3 linked regions of the Homo sapiens genome follow. The protein of the gene in region 1 purifies or fractionates together with the protein of each later gene. This does not show direct contact. Each region holds a gene or a part of one and is shown on either strand. Other genes may lie near its edges. The genes, in order: TIPRL, ATP6V1A and IGBP1.

Region 1 (7,486 bases):
GGGACGGAGTCTTACTCTGTCATCCAGGCTGGAGCACAGTGGCACGATCTCAGCGTACTGCAACCTCTACCTCCCAAGTTCAAGTGATTCTCGTGCCTCAGCCTTCAGAGTAGCTGGGATTACAGGCCTGCACCACCACCCCCAGATAATTTTTTTTGTATTTCTAGTAGAGGCGGGGTTACACCATGTTGTCCAGGCAGGTCTTGAACTCCTGACCTCAGGTGATCCGCCTGCCTCAGCCTCCCAAAGTGCTGGGATTACAGGAGTGAGTCACCGCACCCGGCCTCAGGCAAATTTGTTTTTAAAATAATACATAAGGAGATCGTAGATATGGAATTTTATTCCCTTAAAACTCTCCATGTATACAGCCATCGCTTAGAGAATCTGTAAGTAAATTACATGGGGGCCCCAGTTTGAAGCTGACTGCTTTATATATAATATAATTATATATTGTATTATGTTGGTGCAAAAGTAATTGCGGTTTTGCAATTAAAAACCGCAATTACTTTTGCACCAATCGGCAATTTGTCACAGAAAGTTATATGGAGAGGAGGCCGGGTGCGGTGGCTTATGCCTGTAATCCCAGCACTTTGGGAGGCCGAGGGCAGGTGGATCATCTGAGGTCAGGAGCTCAAGACCAGCCTGACCAACATGGTGAAACCCCATCTCTACTAAAAATACAAAATTAGCTGGGCGTGGTGATGCATGCCTGTAATCCCAGCTACTTGGGAGGCTGGGCAGGAGAATCGCTTGAACCCAGGAGGTGGAGGTTACAGTGAGCCGAGATGGCGCCATTGCACTCCAGCCTGGGCAACAAGTGAAACTCCATCTCAAAATAAAAATAGAAAGAAAGAATAAGAAAAAAAGAAAAGAAAAGAAAATTAAAAATAAATAAATAAATAAAAATACAAAAATTAGCCAGGCGTGGTGGCACGCGCCTGTAGTCTCAGCTACCAGGGAGTCTAAGGCAGGAGAATCACTTGAACCTGGAAGGCGGAGGCTGCAGTGAGCTGAGACTGTGCCACTGCACTCCAGCCTGGGCGACAGAGTGAGTCTCTGTCTCAAAAAAACAAAATAAAAAATAAATAAAAGTTATACAAGGCTGGGCGCAGTGGCTCATGCCTGTAATCCCGGCACTTTGGGGGGCCAAGGCGGACAGATCACCTGAGGTCAGGAGTTCGAGACCAGCCTGAGCAAAATGCAGAAACTCCGTCTCTACTAAAAATACAAAAAAAAAAAAAAAGTTATAAAAAAAAAAGAAAAGAAAGATATAGAGAGGAAAAACTCAAAAAAGTAATTCAATTTCTGGTGGGATGAAGGGAAATTTTTTTCCTTTCTTTTCTGTATTTTCCTAATTTTTTTCAGTGAGTCTACTAGAATATTACCACTTATTTTCTTGAATTAGGAAGCAAACATCGTTTCATTACTTTCCTCTCTTCCCTGGTCACTCCCTCTGCTCAAATCTTAAAATGCAAGTACTCACTTAGGGTTCTATTTTATGACCTTTTCCTCTGGATGACTTCTAGATACCTTAATTCATTCCCAAAGCTCCAGGTACCAAATATAAGCAGATAATTCCCAAACTTAAACCCACAGACGTTATCTTTTTTGAGCTCCAAGATAAATATATCTAAATGCCTACTACACATCTTCACTTTATGACCTATACCCACCTCACATTTCAATAAACTAAACTCATCCTCTAACCAACACCCTGCCCCCATCTGCTTCTCCTCCTCCTGTGCTTCTCATCTTGTTCAAAGGCATACGATACATGCAAAAATCCAAGCCAGAGATCTTGTCATCAGCATAGACTCTTCCTTTTTTATTTCTCCTCCCATCAGCTGGCCATCCCAGGGACTTAATCTTCTAAAACCTATCTTTTCTCTTACTAACTGGTCTCCTTCCCATCCCTGCGGACCTGCAATCCAGCCTCAACATGGCCTCCAGAGAAATCTTTCAGAGCGTACATCTGATAATGCAGCTCCTTTGGATAAAATTACACCCAGTGGTTGTCAGATAAAATTGAAAACTCCTTAGCCAGGCATAAAAATTCCCTCAGTATCTTGATTCCCCTGGGGCCTACCTCTCATCTCTCACAACACCCCCTATGGTACCTCACGCTCCAATCACACGGACACAGCTCTTTAAACACATCACAGCTTTCACTCTCCCTGAGCCCCCAGCTTTACATGCGTCCCCTGATTCCCCTAAATTTTGTCAAGATTCAGCCCAGGCATCAAAAACGCATCACAACTCACTCTGCCTGACCTGATGGCATGTACCTATCCACCGCCCCCCGCAACGGTTTTATAAAGATTCAGTTCAGGCATCCCAATTTCCCAGATGGTTCGAGCCCCTAAAAGACCTCACATCACTCCGTGTATACATCTTCATTACATTTATTCACGCTGTAATATAATTGTCTGTCTCTCTCACGAGACTGTGAATTGAGGCGCACGTTGTCTTTTACATTTCCTATCTCAAGCGCCGGGCACAGCACCTGACGTGACAGAAACCAAACTTATAAATCATCCCCGTCATTAACCCCTAAGAAAACAGGCAACAGCCACCCAGAAAGAAAGGTGGTGCAGGCTGAGGCAGGAGGAGACGTTTGGTGAGGGGAAAGTCCACCAGAACAGTCACACTCTACTCAAACCCAGGCGGATTGACAGTTGACGAAAGCAGCGCCTGGCGATCCCCAACCAAAGGGCCCGGAAGTGTGACTGGATTATTTATCGAAGTTGTCAATCAAAGGTCCGGTCCGGAGGGACCGAACCTCCGCCTCAGGGAAAAGGGGAGGGGCTGCACAGAGTTCGCCCTGCCTCCCGCCCTGGGCCAGCAACCGGCCAGCGCCCAGACCCCGTGCCCCGAAGCCTCACTTCTCCACATCCGCCGACTTCATGATGTGGGTCTTGGACGCCGTCAGCTTCCAGGGCCCGAAGCAGAAATCCCGGTGGCTGCTCTGGAAGCCGTGGATCATCATGGCTGAGGCAGGACCCGCAGAGGCCACAAGGAATAAGCTGAAGCAGCGGCGGCGGCGAACACCGGTTCCTCCGCCTCCCTCCGGCCCAGCCTCCTAGGCTTCCGAGCCGTTACCATGCCCGGCCCCGCCCCCTGCCGGCCGACCCGGACGCGGGCTCTGCTTCCCGTCTTCTTCTCCGCCTCTTTGCTTTTTGCTTCCGGGACTAGTTGCTCTTGTTGCGTGACCCACGTCTTACGTTCCGGCGTTCCGGAAAAAAGGAAAAAGGAGAAAGTCAGAGGGGCGGCACTTGGGTTGCAGAAGGTGTGGTTAGGAACGCACCGCCCTCTTGAACTCGTTGGGTGACGTCATCTCGAAGGATTTTAGGGACTGCCAGGGAAGGGGATGACGGTTCCAACTTGATCCTTACAGACCTCAAAGCAGTGTGATTACCTCATGTGTTAGTGAATCGTGTTACAGAGGAAATTTTTCTGTTTTGAGGTCAAAAAAAGAAGTAATCCCACAGAGTTTAGGAAATCCAGCACCAACAAGATTTAGAAGTGGCCATCTAGCCACTCTTGACTATGACCAACTCCTATCAAAAATTGCATCCTCGTAGATATGCGAAGACTTTCCATGGTCTAGTTGCTATGTAGGCACCCAGTATAGTGAAAACAACACAGCTGACTTAGTGCTAAATCTCCATTTGCAACACTATTGTGTGAATCCTTGGGCAAAGCGCTTCTCTAACGATTTTAGGCTTCAGTTGCCTCAAAATGAGATGATTTTGTTAATGGAAAAAAAACAAATTCTGTAAAAGGTTTTAAAGAGATTTATTCTGAACCAATATGAGTGACCATGGCCCAGGGAATAGTCCCAAGAGGTCCTAACAAAGAGCATCTGAAGCGGTGGCATTACTCTTTGTTTTATACATTTTAGGGAGTTGGGAATTGCAGGTAAAATAAGTCAATATATGGAAGATATACATTGGTTCAGGCTAAGGAAGTGGGATGTCTTGAAGGAGAGGCTTACAGATCATAGGTGGATTCAAAGATTTTCTGATCGGCAATCTGTTGAAAGATTTAAGCTTTAGTCAGGCGAGGTGGCTCCTGCCTATAATCCCAGCATCTTGGGAGGCCTAGGTGAGAGGATTGCTTGAGTCCAGGAATTTGAGACCAGCGTGGGCACCAGAGTAAGCCCTCATCTCTACAAACCGTGTTAATTAGCTGTGTATGATGGTATCTGCCTGTAGTCCCAGGCCACTTGAGAGGCTGTGGTGGGAGGATCTCTTGAGCCTCAGAGGCTGCATTGAGCCATGATCATGCCACAGCACTCATGCCTGGGTGAGCGAGACCCTGTCTCAAAAACAAATAAAAACACAGGCCAGGTGCAGTGGCTCAAGACTGTAATCCCAGCACTTTGGGAGGCCAAGGTGGGTGGACCACCTGAGGTCGGGAGTTCAAGACCAGCCTGGCCAATATTGTGAAAACCTGTGTCTACTAAAAATACAAAACTTAGCCAAGCACGGTGGTGGATGCCTGTAACCCCAGCTACTAGGGAGGCTGAGGTGGGAGAATCACTTGAACCTGAGAGGCAGAGGTTGCAGTGAGCCGAGATCGTGCCACTGCACTCCAGCCTGGGTGACAGAGTAAGACCTTGTCTCAAAAACAAACAAACAAACAAACAAAAAACAGTGTTAAGCTTTGTCTAAAGACTTGAAGTCAGTAGAAAGGAATGCTTAAGAAAAGGGAGTCTGCTATCTGTCATGTGATTCTACACCAGTCAGGTTGGAAAGTAAGGCACATTATACCATTGCACATAAAAAACCATTTAACGACATTTTATGGTTTGTAGGGCATGACTTAATCCTTGCCTTGCATGGCCATAGTTTTTTTGTTTTGTTTTGTTTTGTTTTGTTTTGAGACAGAGTCTTGCTCTGTCGCCCAGGCTGGAGTGCAGAGGCCCCATCTCGGTTCACTGCAACTTCCACCTCCTAGGTTCAAGCGATTCTCCTGCCTCAGCCTCCCAAGTAGCTGGGATTTCAGGCATGCAACACCATGCCCGGCTAATGTTTGTATTTTTAGTAGAGACGGGGTTTCATCATGTTGGTCAGGCTGGTCTTGAACTCCTGACCTCATGATCCACCTGCCTCGGCCTCCCAAAGTGCTGGGATTACAGGCGTGAGCCACCGCGCCTGGCTCGCAGGTCTTGTTTATTTGTATTTATTTTTTTTTTTGAGACGGAGTCTCGCTCTGTCACCCAGGCTGGAGTGTAGTGACGTGATCTCAGCTCACTGCAACCTCCACCTCCCCAGTTCAAGCGATTCTTCTGCCTCAGCCTCCCAAGTAGCTGGGACTACAGGCACGCGCCATCTCGGCCAGCTAATTTTTGTATTTTTAGTAGAGATGGGGTTTCACCATATTGGCCAAGCTGGTCTCGAGCTCCTGACCTCGTGATCCGCCTGCCTCAGCCTCCCAAAGTGCTGGGATTACAGGCGTGAGCCACTGCGCCCAGCCTAGGTCTTGTTTATAATATGGTATCTTATTGCCACAGAGTGTTTTGTCAGTCTTATGATCTCTAGTTTAACCTTAATGTTGGTCAGTTGTGCCTAAACTTTAAAAGGGAGAAGGTATAGAGGTGTGTCTAACCTCTCTTCCCATCTTGGCCTGGAATTCAGTTTTTAAGGTTTTTCTGAGGTTCCTTTGGCCAAGATTAGGTTTTGTTTTCTATCTAAAATTTCTTTTTATTTAAAAATTTTTTTATTTTTAATTTTTATGGTACATAATAGACATATTTATGGGGTATATGAGATATTTTGATAGAGGCATGCAATGTGTAACAATCACATCAGGGCAAATGGGATATCCATCACCTTAGACATTTATTATATTTTTGTGTTGCAAACATTCCAGTTATAATCTTTTAGTAATTTTTTTTTTTTGAGATGGAGTCTCGCTCTGTTACCCAGGCTGGAGTGCAATGGTGCGATCTCAGCTCACTGCAACCTCTGCCTCCTGGGTTCAAGCGATTCTCCTGCCTCAGCCTCCTGAGTAGCTGGGATTACAGGCACGCACCACCATGGCCGGCTAACTTTTGTATTTTTAGTAGAGACAGGGTTTCACCATGTTGGTCAGGCTGGTATCGAACTCCTGACCTTGTGATCCACCCGCCTCGGCCTCCCAGAGTGCTGGGATTACATGTGTACAATAAGTTATTGTTGCCTGTAGTCACCCTATTGTGCTATCAAATACTAGATTTTATTCATTCTGTCTAACTATATTTTTGTACCCATTAACCATTTCTGCCCCTCTCCACTACCCTTCCTAGCCTCTGGTAACCATCATTTTACTCTCTATCTCCATGAGTTCAATTGTTTTAATTTTTAGCTCCCATAAATGAGAGAGAACATGAAAAGTTTGTTTTTCTGTGCCTGGCTTATTTCACTTAACATAGTGTCCTCCAGTTCCATCCATGTTGTTGCAAATGACAGGATCTCATTCTTTTTTGTGGCCAAATAGTCCTTCATTGCATGTATGTACCACATTTTCTTTCTTTTTTTTTTTTTTTTTTGAGACAGAGTCTAGCTCTGTCGCCCAGGCTGGAGTGGTGCAGTGGCGCAATCTCAGCTCACTGCAACCTCCGCCTCCTGGGTTCAAGCGATTCTCCTGCCTCAGCCTCCCGAGTAGCTGGGATTACAGGTTCATGCCACCATGCCCAGCTAATTTTTGTATTTTTAGTAGAGACGGGGTTTCACCATCTTGGCCAGGCTGGTCTCAAGCTCCTGACCTCGTGATCCACCTGCCTCGGCCTCCCAAAGTACTGGGATTACAGGCGTGAGCCACCACGCCCAGCCTGCACTACATTTTCTTTATCCATTCGTCTGTTAGTGTACACTCCAGTTGCTTCCAAATCTTGGCTATTGTGAATAGTGCTGCAGCAAACACGGGAGTGCAGGTATCTCTTCAATATACTGATTTCCTTTCTTTTGAGTATATTCCTAGCAGTAGGACTGCTGGATCATAGGGTACTTCTATTTTTAGGTTTTTTGGGTTTTGTTTTGTTTTTTTTTTAACAGACAGGGTCTAGCTCTATTGCCCAGGCTGAAGTGCAGAGGCATGGTCATAGCTCTCTGCAGCCTTGACTCCCTTGGCTCCCGCAATCCTCCCACTTCAGCTTCCCTAGTAGCTGGGACTACAGGCACCACTGTACCCAGCTAATTTTATTATTATTATTATTTGTTGTAGAGATGAGATCTCGCTATGTTGCCCAGGCTGGTCTCGAACTCCTGGGCTCCAGTGATCCTCCTGCCTCAGCCTCCCAAAGTGATGGGGTTACAGACATGATTTACCACACCCAGCCCATTTTTAGTTTTTTAAGGAATCTCCATACTGTTCTCCATAGTAAATGTACTAATTTATCATCTAAAATTTCAGCTGCTTCTAGATAGGGTAACAGACCACTAATTCACATAATCAGTCATTTGCATCTTACCCTAAGTCATGTTATAATATAATTTTCTATGAA
Region 2 (6,910 bases), on another chromosome or scaffold:
AAAATACTCATGGTAAAAATATGAAGAAAAACCAGCTAAGTTTTAAGTTTCAATATGATAGGCAACATAGGCAACAGTGTACAATTTTAAATATTTGACTGGCTTCGTGTTGGGACTTCCGCAGTTTCCAATTTTAGATATTTCAATTTACTGTTTACTTACCTCAATATACAATAGAATACTTAGCAAATAAAATTTCATACAAAAGCCACATAACCAGGACCACTGTTTCGTTTTTACAGGCCATTCCAAATTAAGAGTCAGGACTTTAAAATCGACCACACTGTGCACTGTGGTACAAGTTTTGGAACTCAAGGCGCTTAACTTATTTTAAACCTATACTGTTGTAGGTTCAGTATCCGAACAAGCACAAGTAAGATTCACACAACTCATTTGTTGAGTGTCTTAAATACAGACTTAGAAGCAAAAAAAATTAAAAAGTTTCATCTCATCTGGGAGTTAGTTCATTTGTTAAGTTAAAGGGATTATTCCTGTGAAATCATCTTAAAGGTTTACAGTAAAGAACACAATTCTAAGCTCCCAATCATAAGAAGTAATAGGAACTTCACTGGCATAGTTACTGGCATAAAGGTACAGATTCAATAGTTGTAAGTTTCCTCTAAATTCGGCCAGTTATTTCTAGGGATCTGCCTTCATCAGGTTACATGTAAATACCCATTTTAAACAGAGATAATTGCTCCATGAATATATTAATTCAAGGTAGATTGTGAATAATATGACTGTTCAGCTTCATTTCTATCGCCAAGTTATGTATCAGAAAGAACATCACAGCCTATGGAGACTGAACTAGATTGAAGATTTTGGATCTAAACATACAGAATAATTTCCTGGCAACCCCTTCGTAAATCCATGGCAATTTCAACACTGGGAACTCTTCAGCCTCATTTTTCTTACTTAACAGAACATGACAAACAAGTACTGAGTGCCTGACAATGAGTACAAAAATGAGTAAGAGTCAGCAACCATGTTCAAGAAGTGCAGTATATGCCGCGTTCAGTGGCTCACACCTGTAATCCCAGCACTTTGGGAGGCAGAGGTGGGTGGATCGCTTGAGCTCAGGAGTTTGAGACCAGCCTGGCCAACATAGTCAGACCCCCGTCTCTACAAAATATACAAAAAATTAGCAAGGCGTGGTGGTGCGCGCCTGAGGTCCCACCGACTCGGAAGGCTGAGGCGGGAGGATTGCTTGAGCTGGGGAGGCAAAGGTTGCAGTGGGCCGAGATAGCGCCACTGCACTCCAGCCTGGGCAACAGAGCCAGACCCTGCCTCATTAAAAAAAAAAAAATGAAAAGAACAAAACAAAAGGAGTGCAGTATAGCAGAAAAACAACATTCTCCAAATATGTTGGATTGTATCTGAAATAGCCAAACTTCCAAGATCATGATTCAAGTGGAGCAAATACTTCCTATACCCGTCAATTATATTTCCCTAACTGGAACTCTTTACAACTTGATGTGAAACAATGCAGGTACTGTGAATAGTTCATGGTTCTTAAACTTTAAAGATTATTAGTACAAAACATACAATTCAACATTAGAATAAATATCCAGTATTTAAAGGAAAATTAAAGTAAGGAAACATGTTACAGACCTAAGACCAAATTAAACTTTCTTGGAATCTCTTCAGGAACCTCAAATACCGATACACAGAGGTAATATTTAGGTCCTTGTTTGGGGCAGTATGAGATTACGTTGAAAGTGACTTTTATTTCATCCTCAAAAGTGCTATTGAATAGTTGGAATGACTTCGTTAACTTAAAACATAGTTACGACTTCTTAATCGACTTACAACAACAAACTATGGCATCGCAGAGAGCTTTTTAACGTTTATGAGCTTCATCTCTTTGAGGGTAAAGACAAGCTCCAAAACGGCTTGAGACAATGCTTCGGAAAAATGTTACGTAATTAATACATTAAAACTATACAACTTAATGGTAAGGAGACATTTCATAAAAACTTAACCAGTCGATCCAAAATAATTCCTAATTTTACGTAAGAGGCAAACGGTGAAAGACCGAACATTAACTTTGCCAATCACCTGAAAGGAGCAGCGTGGTAGAACTACCCAGGACCGCCTCAGCACTCAGGGGCAATAGTGAACTACTGAAGCAACAGCTCCACCTACTGATCCACCCTATACTTCCTTAAATATGTTGGCACCCCAAGTCTACAGTGATCGCGCTCTCTCCCCCTCCTCCACTCGCTGTGACCCAACCCAAATCTAGTTGAGTCACTAGCTCTTAATACTCATCCCCGTGCTCTTTATTCCAATTTCTTCTTCCTCCAGAAGGTTCTGCACAGCTCCCAAGCGTGAATTAAACTGAAAGGTGTCAAACACCGCAGTTCCAGAGTTGAGTCTGGAGGTGGAAGACAACCAAACCACTCCACCTGGAGCTGCGGGCCGGCGTGGCTCAGCGGTCCGCTCCCGGGAAGGAGGCCCCGGGCGCTTCACAATAGCCTTTCCATGTTGCCCCACTCGGTCGCTTCTCCCCACTCAACAACCCACACTCGTCTCCGAACCGAAACCCTGAAGCCCCCCGGGTCTTGCCTCCGCTGGCCCTTCAGCCCGCCAACAGCCCGAGCCTCGCCTCCGCCCCCTCCGGGAGCCGAGGGAACTGAGAAGCAGAGAAATCTCCCTCCGCCCGTCTTCGCCCTGAATCTCTCCTCGCCTTTGCGGCTCTCCCCCTCTACATGGGCCCGGACCCTTCTACCCCACCGGCCGGGCCCTGCCCGGCTGCCCTTCCTCACCCTTTCATCTTCCCCGCCTGCTGAGGCCGTCGTTACCACCGATATCAACGCCGTCGTAGTCGCCGCCCTTAGGTCTCCGCACCCTTAGCTCGGGCCACTCAACCCCGCAAGCCGGCCTCCTAGCCTGGGCAGGGAGCTGTGCGAGCAACGAAGGCCGCGAGAGTCGAGTGAGGGCTTGAGTCTGGTGGGGGCGGGAGTGTCTCCCGCCGCCGCGCTTGTGCCGCCGCTTCTCCACACGTGCACTCGGGTCTCTCGGCTCCCTCCCGCCGCTGCCGCCAGCCAGACCCGCTGCCGCGCTGTGACCTTTCACCCCGCCCCTCGCGCGCCGGCGCGCCGCCGCCTCACGCGCAGCCGCACTGCTCGCCTCCGCGCACCCTGCCCCCTCCACTCCGGAACCTCCATCTTTCTCCTGGACTGGGCCTTCTGGGGTCATGCTCCTCCCTCCCACCCGCTTACGACACTGCTTGTGGGGCTGGCTCGGTAGGCCCTGGCGGTAAAATCCAGATTTTTCCACCCCTCCCTCTCTTGTCCCATATCCGCAAGATAGTTTTTCTCAGCCCCGTTCTTCCCAGTTTGTGGTCTCCAGAGTGACCTTCAAACGCTGTTGCCTCCTAGTAGGGTTTTATAAAGTTAGTTCTTCTAAATGTAAAGAAATCTGTGGAAAGCTCAAGTTTAAGTTAGGTGTTTTAAAACAAACGTAGTTAACAATCGGCCAGATAGATTGGCTACCCTCCAGCACGCCTCAAGTTTTAAGATCACGTGATTGGCCCAAACCTCAGAGCCTGGAATTTTACCGGCGGACTCCAGAGGGACGGAACGCCACCGCCATTTCCTGTCCCTCGATTGTGGCGTGAACGTCACTTCCTTAGCAATGCGCTTTAACTCTTGCTGTCCACATTTTCCACATTGTACTTTATAACATACTCTTTGTGAAAATTTATCTTTTATTTCTTTAATCCAAGAAAATTAATATTCAAGGGATCCGTAAAAATTCAGGCCCCCCGAGATGTAGAGCGCTGGGATGGAGGAGGCAGGGCGGAGCTCGACGTCATGTGACTGGTTGGGCCCGCCCCCCCCCCCCCCCCCAACCTGTGCAGCTGAGGACTTCCCCTCCGTGGTGACAGCCTCTGGGTCCTCGGTCGGTACAGTCTCTGCACCTCGCGCCCCAGCAGGTGAGCGGCGACCGGTAACTGGCGAGTGGTGGGGATAGAGGGGGTGGAAGGAGGCAGAGGAAGGAGAGAAGGGAGAGTGTGAACGGCGACTTTTCTGCCTGAGGCTTCCTCCCCGCTGTCACCCTGCACCGGCAAGGAGCTCATTTCTCCTTAACCCCCGCTCCCCCAAGTGTGGTCGTTCCCGCTACTTGGGGATTCAGATGTCCACCTTTCCCAGGGTTGGAAGTGAGTGCGGCCATTATGGTTCCCTACTCAGAGCCTTTGGGGCTTCGGGTAGCAGATTGTTTCAGCCATTTCACAGGGTCTGCAGTAGACATTAGGTCCCATTCCTTAAAGCCCATTCTTTGGCAAAGGTCCTCACTGTCCTTACCCTCAGCTCAGGGCTGAGGAGCGGGGAGGTAGCAAAAACCCTGGAGGCAGAGGCGTCTCCGGTGAGACAGGCTTGGGAGGGACTGTCACTGATACGGCCCTCACTGCAGAGTCACTGTGAAGCTTCCCTCCGAATGTGCTTTCTCAGTGATTCTAAGGATTTTATCTGACATACCTGCAGGGAAGGTTCCGTAGATGTTCACGTGCTTCGGATGGGACTAGAAAAGTAAAAGAAGGGCTTTTACTTTTTCTTCTCTGCAGAGAGGACAGTTGAAGGAATACTGTCTTCAAAACAGGAGGTGTTAGTAATGCGACAGTCTCGATTGAATGAGGAGGCGTTGAAAGATGGTATTGTGGTGTTGTGGTGTGCAGGAGGCCCAGGCTGGTTTAGGGAAGAGTGAGTAGGGTTCCCTGAAACCGAAATAAGAAACTGATTGGGTTGGAAATAGTTAAACCAAATTGATTTGGCCATATGCTTAAAGGTAGAATCAAGTCGAGATGTTGCTGTCTGCACATGTTTTCTGCCGTCAATCCTTCCCTTTTTGTCATTTTCCCCTAAAATACTACTGAATTGGCACTCCCAATCTATTCCTTGATCGGCTTTGTGGTAAATTTAGGTTAAGTAGCATTTGTATCCCTCTTTAGCTTTCCCCATTTGTAAAACTCCCGGTGCCCTCTTCAGATTTTGATGAATAGTATTTTGTGAAAATACAGAAATTGTTGTCCAATTGAAAATACAGGTGTTGTCCAACCCAAGTACTCCCATTCCGTCCATAATGTATTATTACCAATGTTTTGATCCCAAACAATGTGCTTTAGGGAAGAATGTTTTTCAGTTTGTGGTTAAACTCTTTTATTTATACTGCAAACTCAGAAAATTCCATGCTGCTTTTCAATTGAAGGTCTTACGAATATTACAAATTTGATTTTTAAAATTTAAATTACACCTTTCTTAATATGAAAAATTATATGCTCAGTTAAATCTTGTAGTTTTCTAACTAAGGTAATTAAAGAAGACTGCTGGAAAATGAGGAAGATGGAATCATCTTTGGTGGATGTGACTGATTTATTTTTGTTTTTCTGTGTCTTCCAAATTCTATACAATAAACGGTCTTATTTTGTTAAGGAGAATAAAAAGTTAAAATTCTACAATAGCAGCAGTTTAACAAAGTATTTTTATAGTAAGTGCAAAATACATAACCTAGCTTATTGATGCTCCTTAGTAGAAAACATAACCTCGGAGATGTTGCTTTCCCCAAGTAATGAAGATTACTACTATCTCTTGTGGATTTACCATTTTAGCATTTCGTACTTACGACCCATACTGGACAATAGACTAATGTATTGATATATTTATGTCATCATGCCTGCTGTAGATATATATATGTAGTTTTATCCATTAATTTTCTCCATAATAAGGTTCCTTGATCTCTAGAGGAGAGGGGAAGAAAAAAAGGAAGTGTTACTTCAGTGACCAGGTGACATTGCACCACGTAAGGAGAATTCCTTATGTGGTCTGGAAGTCCTAACTAGTCCTGTCTGGCTGAGACCAAAATGTGAAAGAGAAAACCAGCTAGAAGCATTGACTACTAGAGGGGAAAATGTCAGTATGAAAGTGGTTGGATGAGTCTGCAGTTTTACTTCACAATTCCCCCAGTTTTAGGGAACTCGTGAAAGCAATAACTTAGACCACTGATGAAATGTAGATTAGTAGTGGGAATTGGTGATTACATTGCTAGTAAGGTTAAATGTGAAAAAAAGCTTTGACATTATACACAGATCACACACACACACACACACACACACACACACACACACACACACGATTGGAAGCCTGGAAAACATTTCTGAGACTAGCCTTATCAGTTTATGAGTGTTACATGTAGAAATCTTAACATTTATTAGGGAATTGTGCTATAGTCCACTATTAAATAAAGCATAAGGGTTTGGTTTTATTTTAGGGCCCTTGGCACTTCTGGTTTTCTTTTCCTGAGTTCTTGTTTTCAGTGCCTTTATAGATTTTTGCCACCACTAAGAATGCTTTCTTCCCCATGGGCAGAGGTAGCCACTCAGTCCTATAGACTACTACTAATCATCATCATCATCTTTTCTATTCTTCTACTTGCACTTCTAGCATTGTATTTAATTCCTGTTCCCTGGGCTCTTCCTCAGCAAATCATAAAGCTCTCAGGACTGTGAACTATAATACTATTGTGTCTTCAGCACCAGAATACTGAAGTACCTGATAGGTACTCAATAAATTATTTATTGAATGAATGTTGGGCAATTAGACAAAGAAATTAAACCACTTTAATTTTTGCAGATCATAGCTCTTCCTAAAGTTGTGCACTAAATGTTAGCTTTTAAATATAAACTGGTAATAACCTTCCAAATTCATGGTCAATACAATAGATAAAAACCTCAGATGGACTTTATTAATGCTGAGACCAACTTATTTTCACAGCATGTTTGTTTACTAATAAGTATGGTTATCATCAAAATATGGGAGAGAAGGGAAGAGGAATGAATCGTACTAAATGAAAAAGTGGCTCTGCGTGATCTATAAGTGGACTAGCACTAGACTAAAAGTCAGAGGATCTT
Region 3 (7,737 bases), on another chromosome or scaffold:
ATATGGTAAGTTGAAAACGCATTTAATACACCTTATTGAACATCATAGCTTAGCCTAGTTTACCTTCAACATGCTCAGAACACTTATATTAGCCTACAGTTGGGCAAAATCATCTAACACAAGGCCTATTTTATAATAAAGTGTTGAATAACTCATGTAATTTATTGATGTTCCCCTGACTGTGTATTGCTTCTGCACCAATATAAAGTTAAAAAATTCTAAGACAAGCCATCGCAAATCGGGGACCATCTGTACCATTATTACTTAGATTTCACATATGAGGAAAGCTGAGGCTCAGTTAGGTTAAATAACTTCCCCAAAGTCCAACAGATTATAAGTAAAGCTGGATCTCAAACCCAGGTCTCTGACTCTATGACCCATACTCTTAGCCACAAATAATAATAGTTGACTTTGAGTGTTTACTGTGTCAAACATTGGGCTAACTGCTTTATATATATTTCTCTTTTAATCCTCATAAACTACTTTATGAGGAAGAACCTATTATTATCTGAATTTTGCAGCTGGGGAAATTAAGGTACTGAAAGATTAAATAACTTACCACAAATCACAGTGATTAATCACAGTCGTCGAGCTGGGATTCAAACACCTTACCAAGTTCTCAGCAACAAGTTTCTCTTCACGTTCCTCACATCCCAGGCTCTCCTTGATGTGGACCCTACAACATTCTTCAGTATCATTCCTTCCCCCTTACCACCACCCTCTTTGTGTTCTACCATCACCTAATTGCTCATAGCTGCTGTTTTTGGTCTACACATCTCCACCCACCACTGTTTCTTTAATGCCTCTGTGGCTTTACTAAGGCTTTACATACTCTGCCGGCTAATGCCCTCCTCTCCTCTTCCCCTGGATATTCCTATTTACCCTTAAAGAACTCAGCACAGGAGTCACCTCTTCCAGGGAGCTTTCTCCTCTCTCCTGCTCCCTTTGGTTAGGTGCCCTTCCTGTCTGCTCTCATAGTACCTTGTGCATCCCTCCACAACATCAGTTTATATTGATATTCTGTTTCTATGCCCGTTTTCCTCACCAGATTGTATGCTCCTCCAAGGCAGGGACCACTCATACTCACACAAATACCTATACAGTTTGTATCCCCAGTGCCTAGCATAGTTCCTAGACATCATGACCACCCATTAAATGTTGTTTAAAAAACAAACAACAACAACAAAAAAAACCTAAGAAAGTAAGCAACTTTTCCAAGGTCACACAATGAAGCTGTGCCAGGACTAAGATCAGTTCAGGATGTTACACATCTACTCCAGTAGTCTGAACAGAGCTCCTCAATCAGTGGACCATAAAATGGCCTAGCTTTGCCTTTCAGAGACATCTACCCCACTGTACCATATGAACATTGCTATGATGTGATGTGGAAAAGGTTGGGAGACACTCTGCTAAACTACATTGCTGCTGTTGCCAACCATAAGGTAGTAAGGGTCTGATAAGTAGGTATAATCATCTCAACAAAAGCAGAGGCTTCTTGGAAAAACTCAGGAAAGTTTGCTCTCCCTAGGGCCTATGCTCAATAAGAACCAAGAAAGTGACACATACCATTCTGGCCCCCCACCACCCGCCAAGAAAGCATGCCCCTGAAAAGCACCGCCATTGGGCAGGCCTCATATTATAGCTATTGACCCACCTCTGTATTTTAGCCTGTCTTTGAGATGCCATAGCAACGAGACTAGGATAAGCCATGGAGGAATTGGCAGTGTGATTTTCAGCAGAGTTGTTCATGGTTTTGGGCAGCTCAAACTCTGCCACATGATAGCAATGGCACTGAGTTAAGTAGTTTATAAAGTGTTCTCGAGCCCGCTGCAAATGATCTAGACGCTTGCTGGGGTTGACTTGTTTCATGGTGAGGGCTCCTTGAAACGCTGGCACCAAAAGGTACTTCAGGTCGGTGGAAGCAATCTCTTCCAAATCTTCATTTCGGCTGGAAGAGCAAAAAGGAGGCAGTGAAGCCTGACTAGGCATTCAAATTGTGGCCCTTGCTTTCTGGGGGACGGAGTGGGAGGCTGGGCTGGGAGTGGACCAGAGGGAGGAGGCACGGGGAACAGCGGCCAGTTTCACTCAATGAAAGTGGCTGAGGGCTCACACCCAATGCCTATGCAATCAGCAGACGCTAGGAAGCAGAGTCGTAAGATATCAACCATCTGGGAAGAGAGGTGGGGAATGTAAACAATGTACACAAGATCGCAGTGGTAAGTAGGAACGAAACGTTCTCACCACTAAAGGTCCCCTCCACTCAGGCGCAATGGCTCCACCCTTGGTAACCATTATTACCTTCGTTCTCAGCCATTATTACTATCTTCCCCCATACCTGAACAAGTCGAGCTGCGATAACATTTCGGCAGCCTTCTCAAGGAGGTCCAAGCCCTTGAACACCTTCTCCTGGACTATCCGGGAACCGGCGGGTTCAGTCGCCACTTCTACTTCGTCCAGTAACTGTCTACCAGTTTCGAACAGCTCGGGGAGCCGCGGCAGCTGTAACTCGTCCTCAGCAGCCATCTTGGGGAGAGAGGAACCCGGAAGATCTCTTTTCCGGGGTCAAAGGCAACCTTGATAAAGAAGAATTAGGCGAGCGCGGACAAAACCGGAAGAAGCACCTCATTGGTCCAGTAGCTTCACTGTTAACAAAGCATCAAAGGACTTCCGGGAGCCGCTGTTAGCCGGCCCTGGCAACCGTTTCCATAGACTCATTTTACCAGGCAGCCCGTTACAAGTCGTAGGCATCTGTTAAAAGCAAACAAACAAGCAAAACCCTAGGCGCTGTTTTACCATGAGCTCCTCGTCGCCGACACGGGGCTGAGAAGTTCTGTGGGCTCTGAAGCCCGGGTGAGGCGAGGCTGAATTCGGAGCGCGAGGAGTGCGGACGAGCGAGTGCGTTTTAGGAGCCAGTCTGGCGCGCCCCTTACCTCGCGAGTAGCTCCCTAGGTTGAGGAGTCCAGGGACTCTAGCCGCCGCACCACTCCCACGGTTTGAAGATCCGGTCGCTTGAGCGCGAAGTGCAAGTAGCGCCCCCCTGCGGTTTCCGTCCACCCACCAGATGGAGCTCCGGGTTCCTCCCAGCCAATCCTCTCCCGTCCTCTTCCCCCTTCACCCCACACACGCCTACGACCCGTAGGCCGGCGTCCGGTGGAGCCCCCCTCAGCAAGATTGGCAACCTGCAACTCCGGTCACCGCACAGCCGGCTTCCCTTCGTGCACTTAGTTCCTACATCAAATGTTATTTCTGTGCAACCTTCCTTGTCTCTCTACCGCCTTCCACCCTGTGCCCTTCAGCCGCCAAGTCTGGGTTTCTCCTATGCATCTCTATCATGGCACCTACCACGCTGTATAATTGCTAGTGACTTACAAATCTCTCTTATCAGAATGAATTTGACTCATCTTTGCACCACTCTGGCTAGCCTGAGTACTCAGTATCAGTCATTATCTGAATAAAAAAAAAAAGTGATCAGTTTGGAAAGCAGCCAACTTATGCAGAACAGCATTGTTCAGTAGGTAGTTACTAGCTACATGTGGTTACTAAGCACTTGAAAGTGGCTATTTTGAATCGAGATGTGCTGCAAGTGTAAAAAACACCCCAGATTTCAAAGACATTTAAAAAAAAAAGAATGAAAAATGTAAATACTTTTTACATGGACTACATGTTGAAATGATAGTCTTTTGGATATGTTGGATTAAATATATTATTAGAATTAATTGTACTTCTTTCTTTTCACTTTGTAAATGTGCCTGCCAGATAATTTAAAACTATATTTGTAGCTCCCATTATATTTCTACTGGACAGAACTGATGGAAAACATAATTTCAGGACTTCAAAGAAGGGACGTCATTGTTTTGAACAAAGCAATATAAATACATACTGATTACCTTAGGACGCAGCCTGAATTGTCCTAGGAGATTTAAGTAGCAGGCACACTGTCTACCCCTGAAAATAAACTTTTAAACTAGTATTTTAAACTACATATCGTTGAGAAGAAAAAAAGCTTCATTAAAAAACAACTAGAGGGCAATATAGGACAGTATAAAATAGGTGATATGTTGTATTGCACAGGCTGTTGGAAAAGCAAGAAAGGGCAAGTCATCCCATGCTAGGAGTAGTTCAGAAGGCTTCTTAGACATGACATGCGGTCACATAGAAGAATGTCAAAGTTTAAAGGGAACCCCCAAAATCGGAGGAAAAACTTGAGACCAGAAAGGTTAAGGGACTTGTCCAGCCAGTTTGTGACAAAGTCAGTGACTTCTGCGTTCAATTGTTTCTACTCCATTAACCTTCAGTTGGGTAGGATTTAGAAAGATGAAGACCTTTAATGTGGGACAGATTGAAGCCCCAAACTAGAACAGTGCTTCCTAAGAGGGAGAGGAGGCTGTGGCACACATGTAGGTTGAAAAAGCTTCCCAGGTGATTCTAATAAACCTTCCCTTGCAACCCCTGCTTTATAAACTAAGAAGGAAGTGAGGCTTTGGCGAATTACCTATTTGGTTTATCTGGCACCTCTAGTAAACTGACCTTTCAGGGTCAGGCTTGGCAGGGAATATAAAGAAAAAGATAGTACTTGTGGAGGAGACTTAGAAATGTAGTAATTGTGAGAGTAAAGATAATTTGCTTCTCTGCATTTGCTTGGATTAAAACATGTCTTTACTGTTACTTAAGAGGAAAAAAATGTGCACAGTCTTAATTTGGTCTTAAACTTTGTAAGTCATTTTTTATGGCTTTCAAAATTAGTCTTTTTTTTTTTTTTTTTTTGAGACAGGGTCTCACTCTGCCACCCAGGCTGGAGTGCTGGAATGCATTGGCACGATCTTAGCTCACTGCAAACTCCGCCTCCTGGACTCAAGTGATCCTCTACCCTCAAGCCCCCCAATTAGCTGGGACTACAGGTGCAAGTCACCACTCCTGGCTAATTTTTGTATTTTTTTGTAGAGGCGGGGTTTCGCCATGTTGCCCAGGCTGATCTCAAACTCCTGAGGTCAAGTGATCCACCCGCTTCACCGTCCCAAAGTGTTGGGATTACAGACGTGATTCAGTGTGCCCAGCCAAAATGACGGTCTTTATGGGAGATGCCAATTACTTTCAGAGTGCCTGTTATATATTAGAGTTGTCATTTTAAGCATTGCATTTCATCTTATTCTGAAAGAATACCAAGATTAAAAAGTGGTTAGAAAAAAAGGAATAATGGCCGGGCGTGGTGGCTCATGCCTGTGATCCCAGCACTTTGGGAGGCCGAGGTGGGCAGCTCACCTGAGGTCAGGAGTTCAAGACCAGCCTGGCCAACATGGTGAAACCCTGTCTCTACTAAACATACAAAAATTAGCTGGGCATGGTGGCGCGGGCCTGTAACCCCAGCTACTCCGGAGGCTGAGGCAGTGAGCCGGGAGGCAGAGGCTGCAGCGAGCCGAGATCACACCACTGCACTCCAGCCTGGGCGACAGAGCGAGACTCTGTCTCACAAAAAAGAAAGAAAAAAAGGAATAATAAAAACGAGTCGTTTGCTGTGTTTTGTGTGTAAACACTTTATCATATTAAACTCCTGTTGTGCATGGGAGACTTTTTAAAATCCTAGTTTAGGGCACTTAACAATCATGAAAGTATAACGGTACTTAAACTTTTTGTAGTAGCATAATTCTTTTTCCAAAACAAGTTTTAGAGAGCCTGTAATTTCTAAAAGGACTGATGTATTTGAAGAGGATACAAAGAAGCCTGCCAACTCAGCCACTGGCCCATCTTCCTCAACCTGCTCAGTGAGTGGCACTCCAGGTGAGGGACTCAAGGGCTCTAAGTAACACAATATAAAAAGCATTAATCTGGCCAGGTGCAGTGGCTCCCGCCTGTAATCCCAACACTTTGGGAGGCTGAGGTGGGAGGATCCCTTTAGCCCAACTCTGCTACTGAATAGCTGTGGGACCTTGGAGAAATTCCTTCCTTTGCTCTTTCCATACATGCTGTGTGCTACCTGAATGCTAGGCATTGAGAATTCGAACACTACCCGAGGTTTAAGCTCTTAAGGGGTCCATAGTTCCACGGAAGAGACAGGTAAACAAATAATCAAATGTTAATTTGATAAATATTTTGATAAAGGTGTGTTCAAGGTGTTAGAGGAATGGAGAGAATAACTTTGGCCCGGAGGGGCATTCTGTTAAAGGTCAAACTCAATAACATGACTTTAAGATCCTTTCTAATCTGCCTGCTGACATCCTTTTCATTTTGTTCCTTCGTGGATCCTAAGCTGAATCTTTAGCAAACTCTCCTAGTTCTCCAAACCTATCATGTTCTCTTAGGCCTTCATGCATTCACATAGGTGGTACCTTCTGCCTGGAATGTCATCTTCCTTGTCTGTGCCTGGCAAATTTCTATTCATTACTCATAACTTGGCTCAAAGATCACTTGCTCTGGGAAGCACTTCCTGATTTTCCCCTGTAGGCGAGGCTACCTCCTTCTTAGCTCTTATAGCATTTGATTCATCCCCCTGTGATAGTACTGTACTGTGGTTATCTTTATCCACACCTGTCTCTCACTAAACTGAGAGCTCTTTAAGGCCAGGGAGAGTGTCTTACTCATCTTTGTTCACTCTAGCACAGAACCTGCCACCCAGTAGGTAGGAGAGACTCAATGTTAAATGAATAACTTTGTATCATAATAATACCTAACCTTCTCTGAGCGCTCACATCCTGCCAAGTGACTATGCTAAGTACTTTACATGTGAAGGAGTTCAGGAGATGCCATCCCAAAATATGCCACTTTGGTATGCTGATTATTTGAACCAAGGGCACTTGGGGAACAGTGGATACAGGCAGAGGCTGTCTCTGAGCTCCCCTTATCTGCCTAAAGCTGGCTCCTCCAAAAGGAATGTAATTGTCATGAATCCCCTCTCTAGGAATCTTACCAACCAGGGAAGATTAACTTGGATCACAGGAGAGGAGATCGGAGGCTGACACCACACCCAGACAATCACCTATTCTTCTGAGAGCTGCTTTGAGAGAAGTTTTATTACCTGAAAGACTTTTTATCTGCATAACAAGACAACCTCTGTTACCACACATTTCCTTCCCTTGCTCTCCCATAACTCTTGTGTTGCCACCAGCCCCCAGGAAGCCCCAAGCCCCTATTCCTTTCTGTAGTTCAGGATGCTGTGTAAGCTTCAATTGAAACAATCCCTATAAACTTCATAAAATTAATCAGGGAAGAAGGGAGGGAGAGAAAAAAAATAAACCAAACTCGCAGCAAATTCAGCTTCATGCTGAATTCATGAGGTCAGCTTGCCCTCTGACCTGATTCCTCATAGTTGTTTGCTGCCTACTGCTTCAAAATCATGTAGACCCTGTTACAAGATTATAGTTCCCCTTAACTGTTCTATATCTCATTGCCTATTCTTCTGTAAGCAGCCACATGGCACTTTTTACTGTAGCCATCCTCATCCAAATACCCTGAAGTTTTATGGGTGCAGTTGTCCTAATAATTGCCCATGGACTCACATCATCTATACTGTTTTGCCTTGCAAACTCAAATTATGAACGAATCCATAGTTGAACAATACTATTAGCCTGATGATAGCAGCAGGAGGCAGACAAATCCCTAGGCAGACAGGGGCGGGTCCCCTGTGAAACCTGACCTTCAAACCAAAGACAGTTTAAAGTCTGAAAACCAAGCTACAAGTCTCGAATAAATCCACAGACCGGATTGAGAACCTCTCTTCCTGTTTGGCGTGCTTTCCTCTGATTG

What was found.
Region 2: the proteins of TIPRL (region 1) and ATP6V1A fractionate together in Homo sapiens (co-fractionation; 2 studies listed by BioGRID). This does not show direct contact.
Region 3: the proteins of TIPRL (region 1) and IGBP1 purify together in Homo sapiens (affinity purification with western blotting; 2 studies listed by BioGRID and IntAct, with this or other methods). This does not show direct contact.

What each region holds. Positions count from the first base shown.
Region 1 is NC_000001.11:168,174,578-168,182,063, reverse strand, and holds the start of TIPRL (TIP41-like protein), read right to left. Parts: upstream 3,103-7,486; 5' UTR 2,987-3,102; coding exon 2,883-2,986; intron 1-2,882. UniProt on the Homo sapiens protein: May be a allosteric regulator of serine/threonine-protein phosphatase 2A (PP2A). Isoform 1 inhibits catalytic activity of the PP2A(D) core complex in vitro. The PP2A(C):TIPRL complex does not show phosphatase activity.
Region 2 is NC_000003.12:113,743,174-113,750,083, forward strand, and holds the start of ATP6V1A (V-type proton ATPase catalytic subunit A), read left to right. Parts: upstream 1-3,861; 5' UTR 3,862-3,940; intron 3,941-6,910. Other genes in the region: NAA50 (N-alpha-acetyltransferase 50), read right to left, coding at 2,769-2,776. UniProt on the Homo sapiens protein: Catalytic subunit of the V1 complex of vacuolar(H+)-ATPase (V-ATPase), a multisubunit enzyme composed of a peripheral complex (V1) that hydrolyzes ATP and a membrane integral complex (V0) that translocates protons.
Region 3 is NC_000023.11:70,128,734-70,136,470, reverse strand, and holds the start of IGBP1 (immunoglobulin-binding protein 1), read right to left. Parts: upstream 3,025-7,737; 5' UTR 2,931-3,024; intron 2,749-2,930; 5' UTR 2,524-2,748; coding exon 2,336-2,523; intron 1,949-2,335; coding exon 1,655-1,948; intron 1-1,654. UniProt on the Homo sapiens protein: Associated to surface IgM-receptor; may be involved in signal transduction.